Linked DNA regions of Homo sapiens: region 1 is linked to region 2. Evidence: fine-mapped expression QTL. A gene starts in region 2. The other region holds a variant in brackets. All regions are shown on one strand. Distances are between the middles of the regions. Region 1 has its middle 92 kb from the start of ADGRL2. Region 2 holds the start of ADGRL2 (adhesion G protein-coupled receptor L2).

Evidence for each region. PIP is the estimated chance that this variant, and not a neighbour inherited with it, causes the effect.
Region 1: its variant is fine-mapped to the expression of ADGRL2 in fibroblasts (GTEx, PIP 0.98).

What each region holds. Positions count from the first base shown.
Region 1 is chr1:81,702,783-81,714,103 of GRCh38, reverse strand. It overlaps a transcript of ADGRL2 not described here. Among named protein-coding and RNA genes, the nearest start is that of ADGRL2, 92 kb to the left of the region's middle. The variant C/A (reference allele first, on the strand shown) is at 4,472.
Region 2 is chr1:81,795,347-81,806,667 of GRCh38, reverse strand. It overlaps ADGRL2 (adhesion G protein-coupled receptor L2), which reads right to left and starts at 5,734. Exons shown (of 24, transcript NM_001366006.2): 1 at 5,600-5,734. RefSeq lists an enhancer at 1,968-2,610.

The sequences.
Region 1 (11,321 bases), 93 kb after region 2:
TTATAACATGCTGTTCTCGTGATAGTGAATAAGTCTCATGAGATCTGATGGTTTTATAAAGGGCAGTTCCCCTGCACACACCCTCTTGCCTGCTGCCATGTAAGAAACGCTTTTTCTCCTCCTTCACCTTCTGCCATGATTGTGAGGCCTCCCCAGCCATGTGGAACTGTGAGACCATTAAACCTTTTTTTCTTTATAAATTCCCCAGTCTCCGGTATGTCTTTATTAGCAGTGTGAGAACAGATTAATACAGTATCTCTACCTAATATCAAGGCAGCATGGCATGGAATGATCTAGGGCTTTTGAGACAAGCCCCTCAGGGTCTTTGCATATTTCCATCATTTACTTACTGTATAAACTTGGGCGATTACTTATCCACTCTGAGACCAATTTTTCATCAGCAGCATATGGATAATAATAGCTCACAGACTTGTTGAGATAACACAAATGCATAGTATTATGTCTGGGTACATACACAAATGGGGACAATAAGATCAACTTACAAGATTGCTGTGCAGTTTACTTAAGATGATGAATTTATGCAGAGTGCTCAGCACATGGTCGATACTCAAAAAATATCATTTTCATCACACTCATTCTCATCATCATCACTATCATTGGCCATTAGTGGCTGTTGGTAAATATTAGAGTTAATCGTTTCTTCCCTTCTAACCTTACCTCTTCTGGTACATGCTGATGTCACATCTGTGAAACATGCTTAGAAATGTGTATTATACCCACAACAATCAGGAATTAGGAGCAATTTTAGACTGCTTGGCATACTAACTGAACAGCATTTGGTCTAGTTACTGGGCAAAACACACTGGTTTGTCTGACATAAAAATGCACGTCTCAGAGTGTATCTCAAAAGTTCCCTCAATGCAGAGGACTATGAACTCTGACTCTTGGATGCTCCAGGAAGATCCTAGGTCCTTCCCTCTCAAGATGGAATGCCTTGGAAGTCTCCATCTTCAAATGATTTTCATTCCATTTCATTATATATCGGGGTTTTTTAATTTAAAAAATATTATAAGAATCCACTCTCAAGCCGGGCATGGTGGCTCACACCTGTAATCCCAGCACTTTGGGAGGCCAAGATGGGCGGATCACCTGAGGTCAGGAGTTTGAGACCAGCCTGGCCAACATGGTGAAATGCTGTCCCTATTTACAAAAAATTAGCTGGGCGTGGTGGTGCATGCCTGCAGTCCAGCTACACAGGAGGCTGAGGCAGGAGAATCACTTGAACCCGGGAGGTGGAGGCTGCAGTGAGCTGAGATCATGCCACTGCACTCCAGCCTGGGCAGCAGAGCTAAACTCTGTCTCAAAAAAAAAAAAAAAAAAAAAAAAATCCGCGATCCAGGTAAATTGGTGCTCCAGCATGATAGGCAGTGTGTTTTCTGAGGCTTATCTTACACCTAATATAACTCTGCCTGTTCCTAGTTATATATATCCCAGTTGGAGAAAGAACAGGGATTTCCCAGTTAGACACAGCTGGCTTAGAAGCCAGTTCTGCACACTGTGTGCTTTTGTAACCTTTGGCATATTACTTAATGTCTCTGATCCTCAGTGTCTCGGTCTTAAATATGGGGATATTATGATACCCATTAAATTGTTTGATAATTAAATGTAATCATATCTGTAAGGTCACCAAGTCATATGTTAGGAATTCAATCCATGTCAATAATTTCACCTTTTTTCAGTGTTAGTTAAAATAGTTCAATGACATCATGTCAGGTCACATCGATGAAGACCGATTTGAATTTATTTCTATTGGGACTCAGAGCCCAAAAGTACTTGAAAGATGACATCTGGCTTACCACATACAAATGTCTATGCAATACAACATGGAATCTCATGCAACCATCCAGGTCCTTCCTTCCAAATTCCCATAGTAACTCAACCTTTAGTGGTAATTGTCTATTAATGGCCTTACTTGACTGGGCATATATTTTTTTAATCCAGTTGCCATATAGAAACCATATGGTTGAGATGTCTTTACACTTTACAAAGCATTGGTAAAATGAAAACAGAAATCATAGTCCCAGGCACAGGATTCGATTAGCCAAAGACTTCCTTCTCTACTTGGCGGACACTTGGGTGTCCTTCAGGATCACACTCAGATATATTCTCCTTTAGAGTGCTCTGAAAATATTTTTTTGCTTTCCTCTATCATTGTACTTATTACAAACCACTGAAAATTCATGTTCATTAATCTATCTTCTCCCTTAACCTTTGAATCTCTAGAGTAGGTTCCCAAAGTGAAGTCAGCAGATCCTCTGGGGTCCCTGGACCCTTTCAGGGGGATTTGTAAAGTGAAATCTATTTTCAAAATCATATTAAGACATTATTTGCCTTTTTCACTCTGTTGACATTTGCAATGATGATAGAAAGCACTGGTGTATAAAACTGCTAACATCTTAGCATAAATTAAAACTGTGGCACCAAACCATATGTAGCACTATAGTCATATTCTTAACCACCTCACACTTGCAATAAAACAAAAACAAAAACAACACAAAACAAACAACAAACAAAAAAATACCAATTTTAAGTATGTCTTTTTAAAAACAATCATTGCTAATTTTAAGAAATCTAAATCTCTGAATATACATCTTTAATATTCTATATGACAAAATGGATGCATGCAAAAAGCACTTTCACAGACTACCGAAGTCTGACCGTCTTGAGGAAAAGCACTTATGAGATAAATGTTTGAGTTGTAACCTGACATAGCTGCTCTCTTCATGAAATACCATTTTTACTTTAAAAAGCAACTGACAGACAAACGATGGTTATTCAGATTTAGGTGCTGTGCAGATATTTTTTAAACAATGAATGAAAGCAAGCCAAATCACTTCAAGGAAAACAATCAACAGTACTTATTGCCAATGATAAAATTCAAACATGCGGACAAGAATTGTAACCTGAAGAACAATTTGTATCTGTCACTGTGAACTTGACAGCTTCGTAATATGTAAAGACTTTTCTGATAAGCTTGGTGGTGATATTAACAGTGGTGATTCCTTTTAAAATGTTTCATGAAATATGCTGACATATGGGAAATCTACATAACTCAGTGAAACAATACTTTCCAAATGACCAATGCATGATGTTACAAAATCATGCATGTAGTATATTGGTTAAAGATCTATCCAAAATGTAAGATTAACCAATGTATTTTAATGCAGCAGATTTTTAAATGTTCATTGATATGGTTTCAGATTCCACCTTGCAACTAACCTTTAATAAACTATTTGTCAAAGTTTTATTCAATATCAAAGAAGAATAGCACATTTATCTGAGAAGGCTAGTAAAATATTCTTCCTTTTTTTGCATCTAGTATCTGTGCAAGGCTGATTTTCTTCATAAATTTTGAATTAACAAATATTTTTAAATTTCTCATTTTAATTTCTAACGTGGTAAATACTGAGAGATGTAACTCACAAAAAATAAAAGTTCTTTTTTTTTTTTTTTTTTAATTTTTTGAGCAGAGTCTCTCTCTGTCACCCAGGCTGGAGTGCAGTGGTGTGATCTCAGCTCACTACAACCTCCACTTGCCAGATTCAAGTGATTTTCATGCCTCAGCCTCCCGAGTAGCTGGGACTACAGGTGTGTGCCACCATACCTAGCTGATTTTTTGTATTTTTAGTACAGATGAGGTTTCACCATGTTGGCCAGGCTGGTCTCGAACTCCTGGCCTCAAGTGATCTGCCCGCCTCCCAAAGTGCTGTGATTATAGGCATGAGCCACCATGCCTCACAAGAGTTCTTAGAATCCTCAATAATTTTTGAGAGTAGAAATGGGTTATTAGCTCAAAAAGTTTGAGAAACACTGCTATAGAAAGGCAGCACTGTTCATCTTTCTGTCCAGAGTACCTGAGACTCGTGAGGTGCTTCATATGGGTTTATTTAACAGATGGATGAGTGATGAGTAAGTGAATATTGCCTATAATGCCAGAAGAATCTGACACGTTAGAAAATATCTTGATATGCAATATGTGATAAATAAATTAAATTGCAATTTAATATTTCCCCCTAGCTTTGTTTCTTGCCTTGTAACGCCTATTTCCAAAACAGATAAGGAGACACACCACAGGTGATTAGTTGTTCAGCCATGATTAATCAACTAATTAAATCAAGTTGAGTTGGTGAGGGGGACGGGGAAACAGTTATTTCTCTATAAGTCCCTTCTCTGATAGCCAAACAATTGACTTTACTTCTTTCATTATTAATGTATACATTTTACAAGAATTTGTTTGGAATAGGATAGTTTTTAACATGTTTCGAAAATTTTTTTAAAGCTTGGTTGACCATTTTTTAATATTGTTTTATAATGATATTTTAAGGCATACTTAGTACCCACCTCAAAATTTCAAATGCCTCTTAATAGTGTGGAGAAGAGAGATGGATGGGCAGAAAAACTGGGAACTGAGGAAACAGTGAGTAGGGAAATCAAGTGTCAGCTAGGTCAA[C/A]CCATAGCCTAAGGACTCACAGAAACAAGAATAAAGTTTAAATTAAAAAAAAAATAAACTCCAAACACTAAGGTTTTTTTTGTTTTGTTTTTTGTGTTTACTTTTTATACTACTATTCTGCTTCCTTCAAGCCAAAGTCATCTCTTTTAAAAGAGAAAATATCTTCTTGATAACTCTGTACATGGGAAACAGCAGAAGCAATTTGGAATCCATGGTACATTTTTTTAGTCTCACTGAATAGAGGAGATAGTCTCTTGCAGGAAAGGAGCACCATTCAGTTGGCTGATGTAGTTAACATACTATACCCAAGAGCTAAAGCTCTCTAATTATTCCATAAAGCCTATTTTATCCATTGTAAAATGGATCTTGTCTCCCATTAGGTTGGTGCAAAAGTAATTTCGGCTTTTGCAGTACTTTAATGGCAAATACCACAATTACTTTTATACCACCCTAATGACTTCTCTGAAATAAGGATAACTTGTTCAATCAGTAGTATATCATCGTTTCATTGGCAGAGTTTTAGTTTTTCTTTTTAGAATATAAAATAAGGGTACATCTTACCATTGACAGCATCTTAGATTCGATGAACTATAGTAACCTAGGAAGAAAATGTTTGATTCTATAGTTATATGGTGAGACCATATTCAGAAGTGTGGTCTCTAATACCTTGTCTGTTTTCCTTTCCTGTCTCCTTGGAAAATAATGGACCCATCTAACGAGCAAGTAAGTTGATGTGTTTCAAGGCAAGGTAAGCAAGTTTGAGTAGCACTATTTGATCCCTAAGAACTTTAGAGTTTGGTAGAAAGCTTATACAAGCCCAAAGCAAAAAATAAAGGAAATTGTTTAGCTGAAGTATATAAATAAAATGTGATCACATAACAGAGATTTCTATAGAAGGAGTCCATCCTAATTTTTATGCTTCAAAATATTAAACATTTCCTCAGCTTACAATTTAGGATATATATATGTGTGTGTGTATATATATATATATATGTAAATTTTAATGCAAACAATAGTATATGTAATTACCCTTTGCATTACCCTTCTCTTCTGAAGTGCCAAGGAAAATGTGTGCAGAAACATTTATGCCTACATCATTATATGTGCATTGGCTAAACAATCAAAAGTACTTCTGCAGATGCGTGTAGGAAAATTAAGAGCATTCCCACTTCCTCATTCAGTCAAGACAGTCATGCTGTTCTGGCAACAGATATGCATAATGGAAACAATATTGCTTTAAATAATCAAAATACACAAAGGCACATTTTTCTGAGTGATTGGAAATAACCCTGACAAATGCTTAAATTTGGTAAATTATGAGCTAGCCAAGTTATGTTTGCATAAATATAATGAAAAGCATTTTTAAAAAATTTAGTAAGCATGTGAAGCACGGCATTCTCTTGGTAATGATTTCTTTGACGGATAAACCAACAACCGTGCAAGGCAAGTTTATGAAGGTGCCTCCTTGAGTGCTTTAGAATGTGTGTGTATGTGTGCATGTGTTTGTGTATATGTACACAAATATATGCACAAAAATAAAAAGTTTGCAAAAATTAGGTAAGTGGCAGAGATATTCTTACAACTAAAAAGAAAGAGAGAACAAGCGTAGGCATTTAAAATAGCTACTTATATTTGAAAAGAAGAACACAAGCTAAGTGCAATTGAATGCTTTGTTAATGTGGTACATGGATAATTCATATTCCCCATACAGAACTCTTGGATAACACAGAGATTACCTATTAGGTAAAAACATAATTATATTCTCTTCCAGCAAGCTAGATATCACACCTCAGCTGCACTCTTAAAGGGGTATCTGCATGTAGTTGAAGAGGAGCTGTGGGTGGCTAATAAAAAAGTATTCGAATAGGGCAAAAATAATATTCTACTCACAGGTAATATGGTGGTATTTGTTATCAGATTGGTTTGGGTAGAACCGAGCACTGAGCATCCAACATGTGGATGCAACAACAACAACAACAACAACAATAACATACATTCAAGCAAAAGCCGAGGAAAGATATACCTTCATTTAGGATTGTCCAGATTATCATGGCTTTTAAACTAAGCCTAATAAGGTAGGGAGACTGACCACTGAATTTGCTACATGGATAGCAAAGCTTTTGTGAGAATTCTATAGCTTTTAAAAGTCACCAGAAGCCAAGGAACACACTTTTACGTGAAAGGATTATCATCAAGGCCTTTTCCTATGGGCAGGCCACACAAAACAAGAAATTTTCACATTCTCCTATGAGGATAGACTGTATTCAAAGAGATAAAATAGGCCATGAACAGTGGGTGGAGTGGAGATGACATTCTTAGGGGAAAATTCCTTTAATTCCTAAGCATGAATTGTAGGAAGAGCCTGATTGTGATTTATGGCCTTAGTCATCCTTTTTTTCCCCCTGATAATTGTACACTGTAATTTTTCTTTCTGATAATTAACCTTAGTCATCAAGTTTTTCCCCATTAACCGCCACCCACCTTCACTTGAGGATGGGAAGTAACAGCTTGAGAGAAACCAGGATTACAACAGGCCTCTGGTTGGGTAAAATAGCGCGGCAGACCAAGTTAAATTTGTACTACTTTCCTCACCCTTTGAGGTAGTCCCTATTTCTTATCTTCTGTTCCTCCAATTTAGGGCTAAACCCCTAGAAAGCTTAATGCTTTGCTTTTGTTTCAATATTAAAATACATTAGAGCCATTTGGTAAGTCCTTATCACCCAGCTTATGACTTCTCTTCCTATGAAGAGAAATCTCTTCATGAAATTTCTCTCCTGAAAGTCATCCATGACTAAGTCATTGTGACAGCTAATGTTCTCATATTCCATCTTCCTTGTCTGTGTCTCCTCCTTGATGCCTGATCAGGCCTTGCTTCCAGAAACTCTCCACCCTTTCTTCCTTTCTTGGGACATTCTCAGTTTTCTTTTTAACTGTGTGACTGCAACTTCTGTCTCTTTCCTCTTTGCATTCTATGTGTATGTGATCTAAAAGTTTGTTCCTTAGCCCTTTTCTCACCTGTTCTCTCTTTTCGTTGACAATCTCACCTATCCTTTGGGTCTTGTCTGCAGAGGATGCCCACAGCTCTGCTGTTAGCCCTGCGTCTTCTCAGTGCTAAATACAGGTTTCCACCTGCACACTGCTCTTCTCTGGAAAGACAAGCTCTGGCACCTAAAACACTCATTACGTCCAAATTGGATTCGATATCTTCCCTCTCACATTTACATCCCCTCCTATGTTTCCTATTTTTTCAAAAATGTCATCACCAAGGTTTGAAACCTTAAAGTCAAGTATGACAGCTTTCCTGTCTCTCTGCAATAATATGCAAAACCCTGTCAATTTCTCCTCTAAGGTTTCTTGACCATTTATATCCTCTTTTCCATCCCTTTTTAAAAAAATTTTTTTATTTTTTTGTTTTTATTTTTATTATTATTTTTTGAAACGGAGTCTTGTTCTGTCACCAGGCTGGAGTGCAGTGACGTGATCCCCACTCACTGCAATCTCTACCTCCCTGGTTCAAGTGATTCTCCTGCCTCAGCCTCCCAAGTAGCTGGGACTACAGGCGTGCATGACCACGCCCAGCTAATTTTTGTATTTTTAGTAGAGACTATGTTGGCCAGGATGGTCTCGATCTCCTGACCTCGTGATCCGCCCGCCTTGGCCTCCCAAAGTGCTGGGATTACAGGCATGAGCCACCGCGCCTGGCCCCAAAATTTTTGTTTTTAAAGATAAGGTCTTGCTCTGTCTCTTAGGCTGGAGTGCATATAGCTCACATGATCACAGTTCACTGCAATCTCGAACTCCTGGGCTCAAGCGATCCTCCTGCTTCAGCCTCCTGAATATCTGAGACTACCACCATGTTTATCTAACCTTTTAAATTTTTTATAGCGGTGGAATCTTGCTGTTGCCTAGGCCAGTCTCAAACTCCTGGCCTCAAGCGATCCTCCCATTGCAGCCTCCCAAAGTGCTGGGATTATAGGTGTGAGCCACTGCGCCCAGCCCTTCACCTCTTTTCTATAGGCTGGCTTCCTGCTGTTCTTTCACAGGCTGACCTGGCTACAGGAATTTTGCCGTTTAAGAGCTGCTCCCAGCCGGGCGCATGGCTCACGCCTGTAATCCCAGCACTTTGGGAGGCAGAGATGGGCAGATCACCTGAGGTCAGGGGTTCGAGACCAGTCTGGCCAACATGGTGAAACCCCGTCTCCACTAAAAACACAAAAATTAGCCTGGCATGGTGATGCACACCTGTAGGCTTTTCTGCATCCAAACAACATTATACATTGCTGCCAGAAAAATAATACACAGGGCTGGGCGTGGTGGCTCATGCCTATAATCCCAGCACCTTAGGAGGCCAAGGCAGGTAGATCACAAGGTCAGGAGTTCAAGACCAGCCTGGCCAATACTAAAAATACAAAAATTAGTGGGGCATGGTGGCGGATGCCTGTAATCCCAGCTACTTGGGAGGATGAGGCAGAGAACTGCTTGAACCCGAGAGGTGGAGGTTGCAGTGAGCCGAGATTGCACCACTGCATTCCAGCCTGGGCGACAGAGCGGGACTCTGTCTCAATAAATAAATAAATAAATAAAATTAAAAGAAAACAACAACACTGTTTTGTTCATGTTTATGTGCATTCCCATATCTACATGCATTTGCTTCAGACATTTGCTTTGCCAGTATTTTTCTTTTTCTGCAGAAGTGTCTTTTTCTGCCATCATCCTCGTTTCCTCTCTTCAGTACCCCTATGTCATCCAGTATTTGAGTTTAACAGTTTTGTCTTTCCATTAGATGATGAATTCCTTAAGTAAAAGGCCTGATATGTTTATCTTCAAATCCCCTACATACACTCCAGTGCCTGACATAAAGTAGCTCCTCAAGATATCTTTGGTTTTGAATTAAGGTGAGTTTCATTCCTTTGTTTAAAAATCTTCAACATTCTCTATTTGCCACATGTTACAAACTGTTTTACCTGGTCAACAAGACCCTTAGACTTGGGATCTGGGAAAGGTGGGGAAGAGGAAAGCAGAGAAAGAGGACCAAAGAAGAAGGAAATTGGAAGCAGCAGCAAATGGCAGGCTGGAAGTATTCTGGGACCATTTTTGTGTTGTTCCTTTTCCTACTGATTACTATCTGGTCCTTGAAGGCCCAGACATCCACATACCACTACCACTAATCTCTCCAGGAATCTCAATGCTCAGCGCCCCTGTTAGACCATATCCAGGCCCGCCGCTCCCAGGGGATGCCCTGTGTCCACTGGCAGCCACTTAGTGACTGATGTGCTATGCTCTGTCTTGAGGCAGGAAAACCGGACTAGCCAGCTAAGCCTAAGAATGCACCTATCCTAAATGCTAATGGTAATTCCAGACGCATTAAGCAGACAGTCAGACTTTTAGGGCCTTCTCTTTTTGCCAAGTAATGCACAGGTATTAGATTTAACTGGTTTTTAGGAGATGGCTGCCCTGAATTTGGTGTTTCACCCAGGTGGTATGAGCCAACAGAAATCTGGGTTGTGTAAGAGGGGAAGTATGATGATGAAGGGAGGCCTAAGCATCCCCATACAGGCTTGTGTCATGTAGTTAAATAAATACATTTACTGTTACCAGCAAGGCCAAAGATGAGCAGGGGGAAGGGGTAGCTCCAGAGAGATGATGGGTTTTTCCTTAAAGACTAAGCTCTTTTGTGGCTTATTGGCCTCCTTTACTTCATATGCAGATATCTGCCCCACACTTCCTTCCTTAGTGTAGAATACAAGAGCACTAAACTAAAAATAAAACAAACAAACAAAAGAACCCATTACTTTTGGTGGGCTGATATTGGAAAATGTAAACTTAGAGACTGTTAGGTAATCCTAAGTCCAGACTCATTACTCATTTAACCTTGGCACAAGTTAATGTTTAAGTGAAACTTTATAATAACCAGTTTCCATTTCTTCATTCTCCTTACATTTTTTTACCCATTTTCATTGTAAATTGTTTTACATTATTTTGCTCTTCCTTTTCTTCGGTACGAGAATAAAGTTGTTTTTATCTCTGTGTCATTTCCACCCTTTCCTATACTTACTCTCCCAGGAGATGATCTCACCAATGTCCACACTGGACCAAAGGCATCTGGCACATACTCTCATAACTTTCCTCGCCTCCACCTCAGATTTCCTGACACCATCCTCTTTTCCTGTCCTTCTCTCTTGGAATAAGACAACAACAACAACAACAACAGAAAACAAAAACTCTCTAGCTAGCATAACTACCTGGATTCTCCCCAACTCCTGTTCCATTAATCACACATTTCCCCTAACAACTCCAATTGCCCCTGCTCCACTAATTTCTTCCCTTCTGCAAACATGCTCAAATCTCCACTTGCCTAAAACTTTTCTTGCTTACTTCTCCCGCTTCACTTTCTGGGTACAGATTCCTCACATTTGCTATCTTCAATTATTCTCCCCTTCATTCTTCTCATGCCCTTGAAATATGTCTTCTGTGGAATACATATTTCAGCCCACAAATCTGAGGAAACAGTTTTTGTTGACCTAATCATTGCTGACTCACTAGCTGCTTTCATTCCTTCTATGGTTCTCACGCTGTATTAATCAGCGCGATTGACCATCCTGAACTACCCCAGTGTGTTGTGCTTCTACACTGGGTTACATGCTTTCTTCATCTCTGTAGCTAGAGTGTTCTCAGGTTTCCTGAAAACTTTCTAGTTGCAGAATAAATTCTCTACTTTCTTCTTTACAAATGTATTATCTTTCTCTCCTATCCCTTAGTAGCTTCATGAAATTACTTGCATCATCTGTGAATATGGTTCCTTTCATATATTACCATAACCCCATTAGAATTCATTTCTTATAGGCAAAAG
Region 2 (11,321 bases):
AGTGTTATTTGAATATTCACAAAAGTGAGGTCAAATAAATATTTTGATAGAAAATAAAGCAATAACATTTTATTACTATGGTTTGTAGATTTCTAGTTACCTCTTGACCTTCATGACATCTCAATCTCAATTCACATATTCTTATATTAAGATACTAAAACGCTATTTTAAATTTAATGAAACACAGAAAGCTTCAATAATGATCAAATAAAGATTAACCCTAAGTAAACCTTAGTTTTAAAGCTCTCTTCTAGCTCATTTCAAAAAAGGAAACACCCAGAAGCCTGGTGTTAATGTTTCTGCTGATTGTGAAAATTGCAGCAGTAAAAACCCCAACTGTTTGTCTTAAATTTAGACTTGTATTACTGCATGTGAGATCTGTATATTTACATTAGTTTTTATAACATTTGGAAGTTTTGTTGCCTGCTTTGATGTTAGTCCATTAATAAAGCAGACAGTCAAAAGCCTGGAAAAAATTATACTTATTGGAAATTCTCAAGTCAAAACTTGAAGTAATTGGTTTGTTCTACCCCACATGATTCAATATTCTGATTTCCCCAACTACCTGCTCCCAGAGCTATCTCCATTTCTAAATTCGTTTTCTGTTGCCAACACATAGTAACCCAGTGATTGAAAATGGCAGCTGAAGTTCTTCTACAACACATTAATTTTTCCCTAAGTAGTCCAATTTTGTCATCTAAATGTTGAAAAATCTTCTTTTCACTACATTTTGCACCTTTAGAGATTTACTGAATTCAAGATCACCCTCACATAAAGTGAAGAGCAATGTTTTCAAGACAATTTTTAGATTATCACTAATAGCTGTAAAGGATAATGTTGTTTTCTTTATAACACTCTGCATTCAAAGCAGACTAGTTAACAGCAACTTAAGTGCAATAATAGCAATTACATCAATGTGGCCTTTTTTTTTTTTTTTAACCACTAAAGTACTTCCTAGACAAGTGAAGGGATCAGATAAATAAACTACCATAAAATAATTTCAGGGTAAGGATATAATGATATACAATCTCAATGGCACAGAAAAAAAAACCCTAATTGTAATCCAAAAAAAAAGGATCATCCGATTACACTTAAGCTAAAAATGTTAGGCAATTAATGATAGTTTTTCCCCTCTGAAATTGTTATATTGGAATTCATTTTCATTAATAAAATAAAAGCAAGGAGTTTGAACATTAGTAAATGAAAGGTTATCAATTCATATTCAAAAGCAACCAAACATCTAAGGTAAAACTATAAAAAATATGAGCTTACATCTCCAAAAAAGTCTCCCCTGAAATTCATTTCCATCTTAGAATTAAGTTTTGTAAATTCTTAAGTCAAATAAATAAAACTAATTCTTCCCAAGAAATTGAAGATAAAAGTTCCCCCTTGACCCATCTGCACTTGATAACTAACCCAAATGACCCAAGCACTTGTTCTTTTTTTCATTCATGGATATTGAATTGTTAAAAGAAATTCAAAGATATGTTCTCTCTGTAAACATAAAAAAGCAAGAACAAATAAACTATATTTTTTAAAATAAACCAACTGAATACTAGAGTTTACTGTTTGACAAGATACAAAAATTTTGAAACAAAACAATATTTAAACAGAATTATCTATTTAAATAGAATTCACAAAAATTTGAATCTTCACTTAAAAAAAACTTTTCCAAGCTTCTTTTTGCAACAGAAGTTGTGTCAAGTTCATTTGAGGTTTTAATTTTCAGCATCCTCCGCTGACTTTTTCCCTATTTATTTAGCACATAAAAAACAGTTACCTACGTGTACAAATGAGTCTTTTAATCACAAAATTTCTATTGTTTTAGAGACTAATTAAAAACTAATTAAGTGGCCTTTTCATTTTACTAATAAAACAAAGTGTAGTTCCTAAAAAAGCATTAAGTTAGAAGGAAAGGCTTTCTCACTCTCTCTTACACTGAAGGGACCCCAAAAGACAGGCAACAGTGACTATCATAAAACAAAAGGTCACTCTTTTTCTAGGAACAAACCATTTATCAATAGAAAATAATTGTCTTGCCATTTGCAAGGGCTCCACAGCAATAGACAATGTTTTTGGCCCACATAACTACAAAACAGTAAAAGTTCAGAAACACAGCCTGAATCCACCTCCCTATTTTTACCCTTTACAATTCTCATTGCCCTTTGGGCCTCCGCTTGGAAGCAAAAGGAAGACAGGCTGAAGTTTTCTCAATTGAGCTAAAGCTAAGAAACCTTTGATATGCTAATAGTCCCCTTCAAACGGTAAGAATTCACACTTGCATTAATTCAAACAATTTGTGCAGAATGATGTGAAATGGCACCTCTTTTAGAGGCAAACAACAAAAGGAGAGAATCGGAATGTCTGAAGAAACTAAACAACAGAACATTTGTTCTGTAGTATTCTTTCTATTATGCATAAATTTATGGAAGGGTGGAGGGAGAGACAACAAAACGTTCCATAACACACCTGGACAGAAGTAAATTTTCTTTTAAAGGGTTTCTCAAGTATTACGAAGATACAAAATTTAAAGTTACAAAGTACCCTTAGTTAGGTCAAAACAGTCCCATCACAAGTTGGAATGTTGCCACAGATGAGTACCAAAACTATTCTATTTTTCTGCTCTGGATGCATATTGCCTCTTTAGTGCCTATTTTCTAAGGTTTGCCCAAGATCAAACCTGACTTAGCAAGAGACAACCTAACAGGTAATTATTTACCAAAGGATGTGACTTTCTTCATTGTGCAACTTCGTTGAGCAAAGAGCAAACTCGGTGGGACCCGTTCCACACATAAATAGTGACAGAGAAATGAATGAATCAACTACGTCCGTTAAATCTATGCCTCTGGAAAGGGGAAGAGAAGTGCACGTACTGAAAGAATGCAGAATAAAATCAAAGAATTGAGGGCGGGGTGGGGAAGAGAGTGCCTTAGAACCTGGCCTTTGTAACGGGAACCATATGGTTGGTAGCTGCAGCTCAGACGCTCCCAGGCTGCTTGGGAGAAGCTGCTAAGCAGCCTGACACCTTTCAAGAAACAGGAGGAAAACATTCCCTCGGTCGGAATCTGAGACAACAGTTTGTATCGGGAAGAACGGAATGGAGGGCGGGGAGAGGGAGAAAAGATGAGGAGGAGGAGTCCCTAAAAAGAGAAAGGCTATGATAGATACCGCAGGACTTGTCCCTCCCAACTATTCTTTGAGAGCACAGAGTGAACAGAGGATTGGAGGGGGGGAAAAAAAGCCTCCACTCAGCGACACTTTAGCATTAAGTAAAGCTTCCAGTATTCTCCCCTCACCCCCACCCCGCAGTCTGGCGAAAGGAACAAACTTTACGGGTCCCAAGCGCAGAAGTCTCGCAGGCGCACCTCCACACTGCTGGGGCGCTTCCATGGTTTGGCTCGCCCTCGCCCCCTCTGCCTGAGGGTCGCCCCAGCCAATCAAGGAGCCCACGCTCGGGCAGCGCGGGGGTCTCCCCTTCCCTCGCGCTCCTCCCACGCCTTTCTCTCGTCGCCACTCCCCAGTGGCACCCCCATCCCACAAACCAAGCTCCCGAGGCTCCCTGCCCCACAGCCACTCCAGCAGCATACACTCCGTAACTTCTCCCGCAGGCCCAACGCGGCCCGCTGCTGCCCTCTCACTGCGGCTCCGGGAGGCTCTCTGCCCTCCCCGTGGCCCGCCGGGTCCCCGGCCCCTGCACCCTCCCGACCCACGAGGCCGCCCTGGCAGCAGCAGCCCCGCCGCTCCCAATCGTAGCCAGTCCCGGCGGCGGCCCGACCACATCTGGCTGCGCTTTACTGTCATCCTCGCCTCCCCACACCACCTAACCACTGACGAGAAGGAACAGCAACCCTCAAAAACTCGTCCAAGCCCTCCCCCACCGTCCACTTCCCCCGAACTCGCTCCAGCCGCTCAGCCTCCCCGCTCCACTTACAGTGCGGGACCGGAGGGCAAAGCGGGCGGGACGCTGGGGTGGCCCCGGGCCCCAGCGCCCGGAGCAAATAAGCTCCGCCGAGGACGCGCTTCACACTCCTCCTCCCCAGGCCCCCAGTGAAAGGACGGGCGGAACCTTGCGACCCCAAGCTTTTATGAAATTAAAAAATGCATGGCTACGGGAGCCTCATCCTAACCCCCTTGCCAGCGCCCCCGGCAACTAGACTGATGCCTGGAGAGCGTTACAATGGCTCCACGAGAAAAGGAGAAGCCGGCTGGACCGGACTGAGAGTTCTGCGGATCGATTTCCAAGAGGAGATTGGGGGGAGGGAGCGAGCAGCCCGAGCGAGCGCGGGTCTCCCCCTGGGCCAGCCGAACAGCAACAGCCGAGCCCCATTAACCCGCGGCTCCCTGCGCCTCCAGCATCCACCCCCGGACTGGAGGCGCAAAGCAAACAGGTCTCCGAAGCTGGGCACAGAGGCACATTGTTCGCTCCTGCGGCTCTTACCTCCGTCTGCGAGCGCGCCCCGAGGGAGGGCCGTCTGGCGTGGGGGCCGCGCGGGGACAGGCGCGGAGGGCAGCGGCTACCCCGGCCGGAGAGGGCCGAGGCCGGCCGCGAGCGGGTCCTCGGCCGCCGAGTCCGCGCGGGAGGCAGCGCCGCAGCTCCCCGGCCGGACACGGCGCCGCAGCTCGGCGCGTCCTCCTGCTCGGCCGCCGCCGCCTCCAGCCGAGCAGCCAGCGCCGGGCGGCTCCTGGGGTTAAGTCAACATTTTCCCGCAGTTTCCCACACGCCGCTCTTCGAGAGAGGTCTTTCACACACACGCACACACCCCCAGACCGCACGCTCCCTTAGGAAAAAAAAATCGGGAATCAGAGCGAAAGGGGTGGTGGAAGCAAAAGCCTGACAGAGGTGCGCAGACTTGGGAGTCCCTTCGAAGCGACGGGCGGGAGGGCGCCGGGGGCGCGAGGCCAACTCAGTTTGTCAGGCGAAGCCCCTCAGCCCCCCGAGCGCCCGGCCGGAATAGCATCCCTCGCGCCGACCCTGCGGCCTGGGGCGGGAGGCGGCGGCGACCCCTCCTCACATTTCGGATCTCCCGGCCGGGGCTGAGCGGTGGCCGCTGCCCCAAGGAAGGCTGGCGGCGCAGACTCGGGCTCGGGGAAGCAAGGAGTAGCCGGGAAGAGCCACGCCACACACAGCAGCGGAGGGGAGATGCCCCCCAACAATCCCAAGGAATTCTCTGGTAAGCTCCCGATTTCGCCCCAGCACCTCTGCGTGTGTGTGAGCGGAGAGAGAGTGAGAGGGAGCGAGAGGGAGAGAGAGAGAGACGGGGGAATGCGAAGTCCTGACACAGACTCTCCGCGAGGTCTGAACTGGAGTCACCTCCAGCCTCCTCCTCCTCCTTCCCCCAAATCCGCCCTCCCCGCCAGTTGGGCTAATCATATAAACATACTAGCGTGTACAGCGTCAAAGGACAAATCTCTCCCTCCTGAGTTTTCCAGCAAGGGGCTCGGGCAAACTCAAAAGAAGATTACAGGCAGCTAAGTACAAAACGTGGAGCAGATAATCTATAACTCATTGTCGCCCAATGGCCGTTTTCCACTCCATTTGAGCAGCTGCTGCGGCTGTGCGCCCAAGCGGCGGGGAGGAGGAGCGAAAGGGGATACTTACGGGCTCGAGCCCTTCGGACGGCGGTGGCGGTGGCCAAGCAGCCGCCCGAGGACCAGGCCGGCCCCGGCTCCGCCGGCGGGGCGGCCGCAGGGCTGTCCGGGCGGCGGTGGCGGCGAGGGACGCGCGCGCACGGCCGTGGAACGCGCCCCGGAGGCGGCCTGCGCCAGCTCGCGCCCCTCCCCTTCTCTCCCCTCCCAGTCGGTTCGCGCTCCCCCTACCCCCAGGTCCCCGAGCTCTGCCTCCAGCTCCCCCCATTAACACACCCATTCAACCGCTAACCCCTAGCCCACCCCCAAACTCCACTCACTGCGCGCTGGGTCCTCCGCGCGCTCCGCCGGCGCGCGCTCTCCATCCTGTCCACACACATGCACTTTAAAAACATTTATTTTATTTCTGGAGTGGGTGAAGAGTATTTGGGAGAGCGCCGCGAAGCGCGGCGCTCCGAGGCTGAGCGCAGGGGGATGACCAGCGGCTCGGGGCCCCCTCCCCTCTAGGCCCAGGAGCTTGCTCCCGGCCTGGACTTCGGAGAGGCGCCCGGGATGCGTCTTTCACCCACCCCGTCTCCAGGTTTTCTCTTTTCTCCACGCACCGAGCCAGAGGCCCCGAAACTTTTAGTTTCCGTAGCCCTCCTTTTGTGTAACTGCATGGAGGAGAAAGAACGTCTGTTCGCCGCGGCTGCCTCCGTCCGGCTGCGGCGCGCGGGGGACGCTCCAGGGTTAATGCGTCTTTGATACCTGAGATTTCCGGCGCGCTCGTTAATGAAAGTTACATTTTTTTAAATTGCGATGATTTTTTTCTTTGTAGTTACGTAGAGCCAGCTAAACTTTGACTTTATTGACTATATTTCACAAGAGCGTTTTGTTTGTTTTTGATTAAACTCACCAGGATAAGCAAAGGAAGGAAAGGAGACTACAAGGCTCTTTACTCTCAAGTATAGTCACAGAGCTGTTAGGTCTGTTTCCCTCATTTCCTTACATTGAAACTGCCTTTGCTCTTGTCCTCTGAACACACTTCCTTGCCCCTCTCGGTTGGCAATGTCAGCAAACAGCCAGGCAGAGCCTACGATGGACCTAAGCTGAAAGGAACAGAGCAGGACAGGGCGAATCACGCTGGAAAAACGTTTAAAAGCCAGTTAAGTGTCCTGTGCATGCCACAAAATTCAAACATGGATTTTTTTTTTATTGCAAAATTTCTGAGCTGGAAGCAGCTATGTTTTCAGATGTATTTGTAAACCACTGATTCTACTAATGAATGCAGCCATCAATTAAATAAGCATATTTACCTTTTTTTCAAGAAAAAAATGATTCTCCAATATTTAAAACCTAGAAAGTAGGATAAAACTTAAGCTGCTTTGCTTTCAGAAACAATAGGTACTTTTTGGTGCTGCAGGAATGTTGCAAGCATCATACTTCAGGAATCATTCCAAACAATGTTATTAATATGTCAACAGCAGATTGTTCAAAATACATGAAGATCCTAAATACCTATCAGTATTTTGTCAGAAAGCCAGATAGGTGTAGTACTAAAGTAAATCCAATCCAACTACTGGTCAAGTTTGTTCTTGACTTGTAGGAAATCATAGGTTAAATGTACGTGTGTCCAAATAACTAGAACATGTTCTTTTGGTGGTTTCATTGTAATTCTCAGATTAAAAAAGAACCTTTGATAATCTAATTTCTTCTACCTGATGTATTGATGTTTTAATATTCTCACTATTTCAAAAGATAAAAGGAGCAACTTAGAGCATTGGTGCTTTAAACTACATACACACTTACATCTGGAATTTCTTACATAACATAATTCAAATATTAACCACGCAGGATATAAACTAGTCTGGATAAAGTACACTTATGCAGAGCTGGTGCAAAACCTTATAACGTACCTAAGTTTTTACATATGTCAAAATACATACATACAACAGATCTACCTAGCAAAATTAAATCAGGCTACTTCAAGTCGTTGAAAAGAAGGCAGAATTATCTAATTCTCAGACCTCAGAGGTAATTTTATGATCTTCTTAGGAATATAAAATTATTTCATTCAGGATTGCAAAAGAGAATAAGTCAAACTGATAGTAACTTGCATTTACCAAAATATTTTAGCCCTTCTTTGTTCATCTTTGAAGGTTTTCACTCATCTGGGCACCATTCACAAAAGCCCCAATGAGTGCATGCATCAGTCTAATCCTATTTTCTTTTGGGAAGCAAAACTTAGGCTGAAGTTTTTATTTAGTGAGCTTAGTAAGTAATCAATAGACATTTTTGCCTGAATTAAGCTGGCCATATGTTGGCTCATTTACTTATTTATTTAACTCTCTCAGAAATAATCTCTGGAAAAACCCATTATCTATCTGCATGATATATTTGACATTCTTTGATGCTCAGGACATAAGTGAATCACTCTTCACTGTATTCTTAAAGAGACAATATCACAAAAAAGGAGGATGCTTGGAAGGGGGAAGAATTTATCAAAAGTGAATTAAAATTATACAAACTAGAAAAATGCCCCATAGAAGTTTCAAATCTTATTTCAATAGGATGTGTATTCTATAGAGTTCAAAGAGTTCCACACTTTTCTCCTAAAAATATAATAGACTTGCTATGTTTTAAAATTACATTTAAGAATACTGCTTGTGTAAGACAATGTTTTAAATATTAAAGATTTTTAATTATTTCTTTATTCTTTAGAGGTAATACTTCAACCTTCTTTGTATATCCACAAAGAAGAATTGAAATAGTGTTTAATTATATTGCTAGATTCAAGATTAAGCTGTTAGCCACAAACCTGCCATTACAAAGGAACACTTAAAAGGCACACACCATAGAGTATATCTACATTCAAAAAACATAATTTACCTGGCACTCTCTGACAATTCATAACATAATTTATAACAATACAGGTGTTATGGTAGAAAAAAATGAAATGAGAAGCTTAATAATATCTACAGATGTGTGCAAGTTAAGGAGAGTTGGAGTATGTTACGCATTCCCTGCAATCCAATCAATTTAATTACTCAATCTATATTGTTATTTAAGTAATGGCAAAATCATTGACTTATTCATAATAGTTGCTAATTGTTTTTTAAAATAAATTCTACAAAGGACAAAGGAAACACCCATTTCCATTTGTTTTATGTTAAATCAACATATAACCACTCATGGTGATTTCATTCAAAGAAAACAGAAGGAACTCATTAGCTTATGTGGTTAGAGAGATTGATGGGCTTCAAACATTTTAACCATACATGTTTTTTCCAACTGTAGAAACTCATGTTTTTAATTTTAGTAACCTTAAGAAACTGAAGATTATTTTATTCAGTGGGTTCATATATTTCTGGTACAGACGTTATGCTAATTTTTAAACTGAGATTTATCATCTAAGTATCTTTGTTTATAGGGAAGTGATCAGGCACTTGTTAAAATATACATAAGAATAACAGCAGTTTGAGTAACAAAGAATCTGAAATAGTATGAAAATGGACATAGGTGCAGAATATTGTGATTAGTGTAAGCCAATAGAACACAGTATCACTTTCACTGCCCTACTCTGGCCAATGGCTATAGCTAAGACACTTCTAAAAGGGTCAGGGGTTGAAGGGAAGAGGTATTGAGGCTTGAGAGTAGGCCAAAAACTGCCATTAAGTTTGAGCAACACAGTTATAGAAAACTATTAAGGAGGGACGGTTGTATCTATTATGGGGAGTGTATTTTTGCCTGTGATTAGAGTTTGTGAAACTCTAATTTTGTTTCAAAAGAAACAAAATTTGTTTTCAAAAGAAAATTGTTTCAAAATTGTTTCAAAAGAAACAAAAAACACGTGGAATGACTCTCATTTCTAATTCAGAAATAGAAATAAAATTAGCTAGATTATATCCTAAACCTAACTCAGTTCCATTTTCTTCATCATTACTTGTTGATGATGCTTGGTGCTGAAACTAGTTTTTCCTACTCTAGAAAATAAACTACATTAAAGCTCTAGAGCAGATCAGAGCAATATATGAATGCCAAACTTAACTAGAACTTGTTGAAAGTTGCTAGCTTTGTTTTCAATTTTTGCCTTGCCATGCATGTAGGCTGAAAAGAAATCAAAACTCATTTTCCGTAAGAGCAAAAACATATGAAAGCATTTGGCAAAGCCAGTAAGGTTTTAGCTATTCTCCCTGCTCTATAGGCTTAGCAAATTTTGTCCAAGAAGGCCAAACCCTATCCAAAATGTAGAGATGCAGTCTCCAAAAGTAATGACAGTTTAAAGTATAATGTAAATATAATTAAGGCATATTGTGTTTAATGGTATAATTTAGAAGTATATAATCACGAATTATTAATAGCTGTCATTTGGTAATTAATACTTTTTAAAAAAAGCATCCACTAGTTCAACTGGTAACATGACTTTTTCTGTGCACCACACGTGTTAATTAATATATGCATAATTGTATATAAAGATTTAGGAAATTTTTATGTCGTTACCATTATGATACTCAAAAGTAAGCAAATTTAAAACGATATTCTTCATAATTATTGTTCCACTGAGTCTTAAACAACTCAAAGTTTTTCTTTCCCATAGATTGTTCCTATAACTCTCATTAATCTCTGCATCTTGAGAATTTTATATAGTTGGGTCTTATAGGTCTTTTATCAATGCTTCTGTCAGATCACAAAGTGTAAGCAAAAGAACACTAATTTTATACAAAGCTGTCTATAACTTCTAGTAATTTTGTCCATCATAAATACTCATAACCTTGTTTTCTCATTAACAGTACGTGGTTTAAAAAAACACCTCCTGCAGTGTGTGGTGGCTCACGCCTGTAATCCCAGCACTTTGGGAGGCTAAGGCAGGTGGATCCCAAGGTCAGGAGTTCAAGACCATCCTGGCCAAGATAGTGAAACCCCGTCTCTACCAAAAATACAAAAATTAGCTGGGCACGGTGGCAGGCGCCTATAATCCCATCTACTCGGGAGGCTGAGGCAGGAGAATTGCTTGAACCTGGGGGTCAGAGGTTGCAGTGAGCCGAGATAGTGCCACTGCACTCCAGCCAGGGCACTGGGCAACAGAGTGAGACTCCGTCTCAAAAAACAAAACAAAACAAAACAAAAATAAAATACCTCCTGATCCCCTTTTAGTGCACACAAACCTCCACCACTGTCAACGATGAATTAAATTTATTTAAACTTTCTTTAAAATTGTTGAAGGTAAACTAAGAATAATCTAAAATTACAACTCTTTGAATGGGCAGTTCTTGATAAAGTATCATGTATTGCTTAGGTGCAGAACAAAAGCAAAGAGATGGTTAACAGTAGAAGTAACTCTATCAAATCTAAATCCTTAAAGATAACCAAGTAGCAATGTCACAGAATAGTCCAAATTGAATTTTTAGTGCCTCTCGAATATGACTTTGATTATTCATGTCATAGTTCACTGTAGTATGGCAAAACTTGCAAAGGCTTTTAAGAGTCAGGAAGCAAACTCACATACAACCTCTCTGCATTTTAGAAAGTGAGTCAAATATACAATTATATAACACTTATAATGTTTCCATATTGTTTCAAGTGTGTATAACACTTATAATGTTTTCATACATTAAAGTTTTCATAATTATACAGCATAAAGTAATTATACTCTATGATCCCTTAGTATTTTTTAAACACAAAAAAACTTATTTATGTATTTTTATTTTATTTATATATTTATTTTGAGACAGTGTCTCACTCCAGCTTGGGCTGGA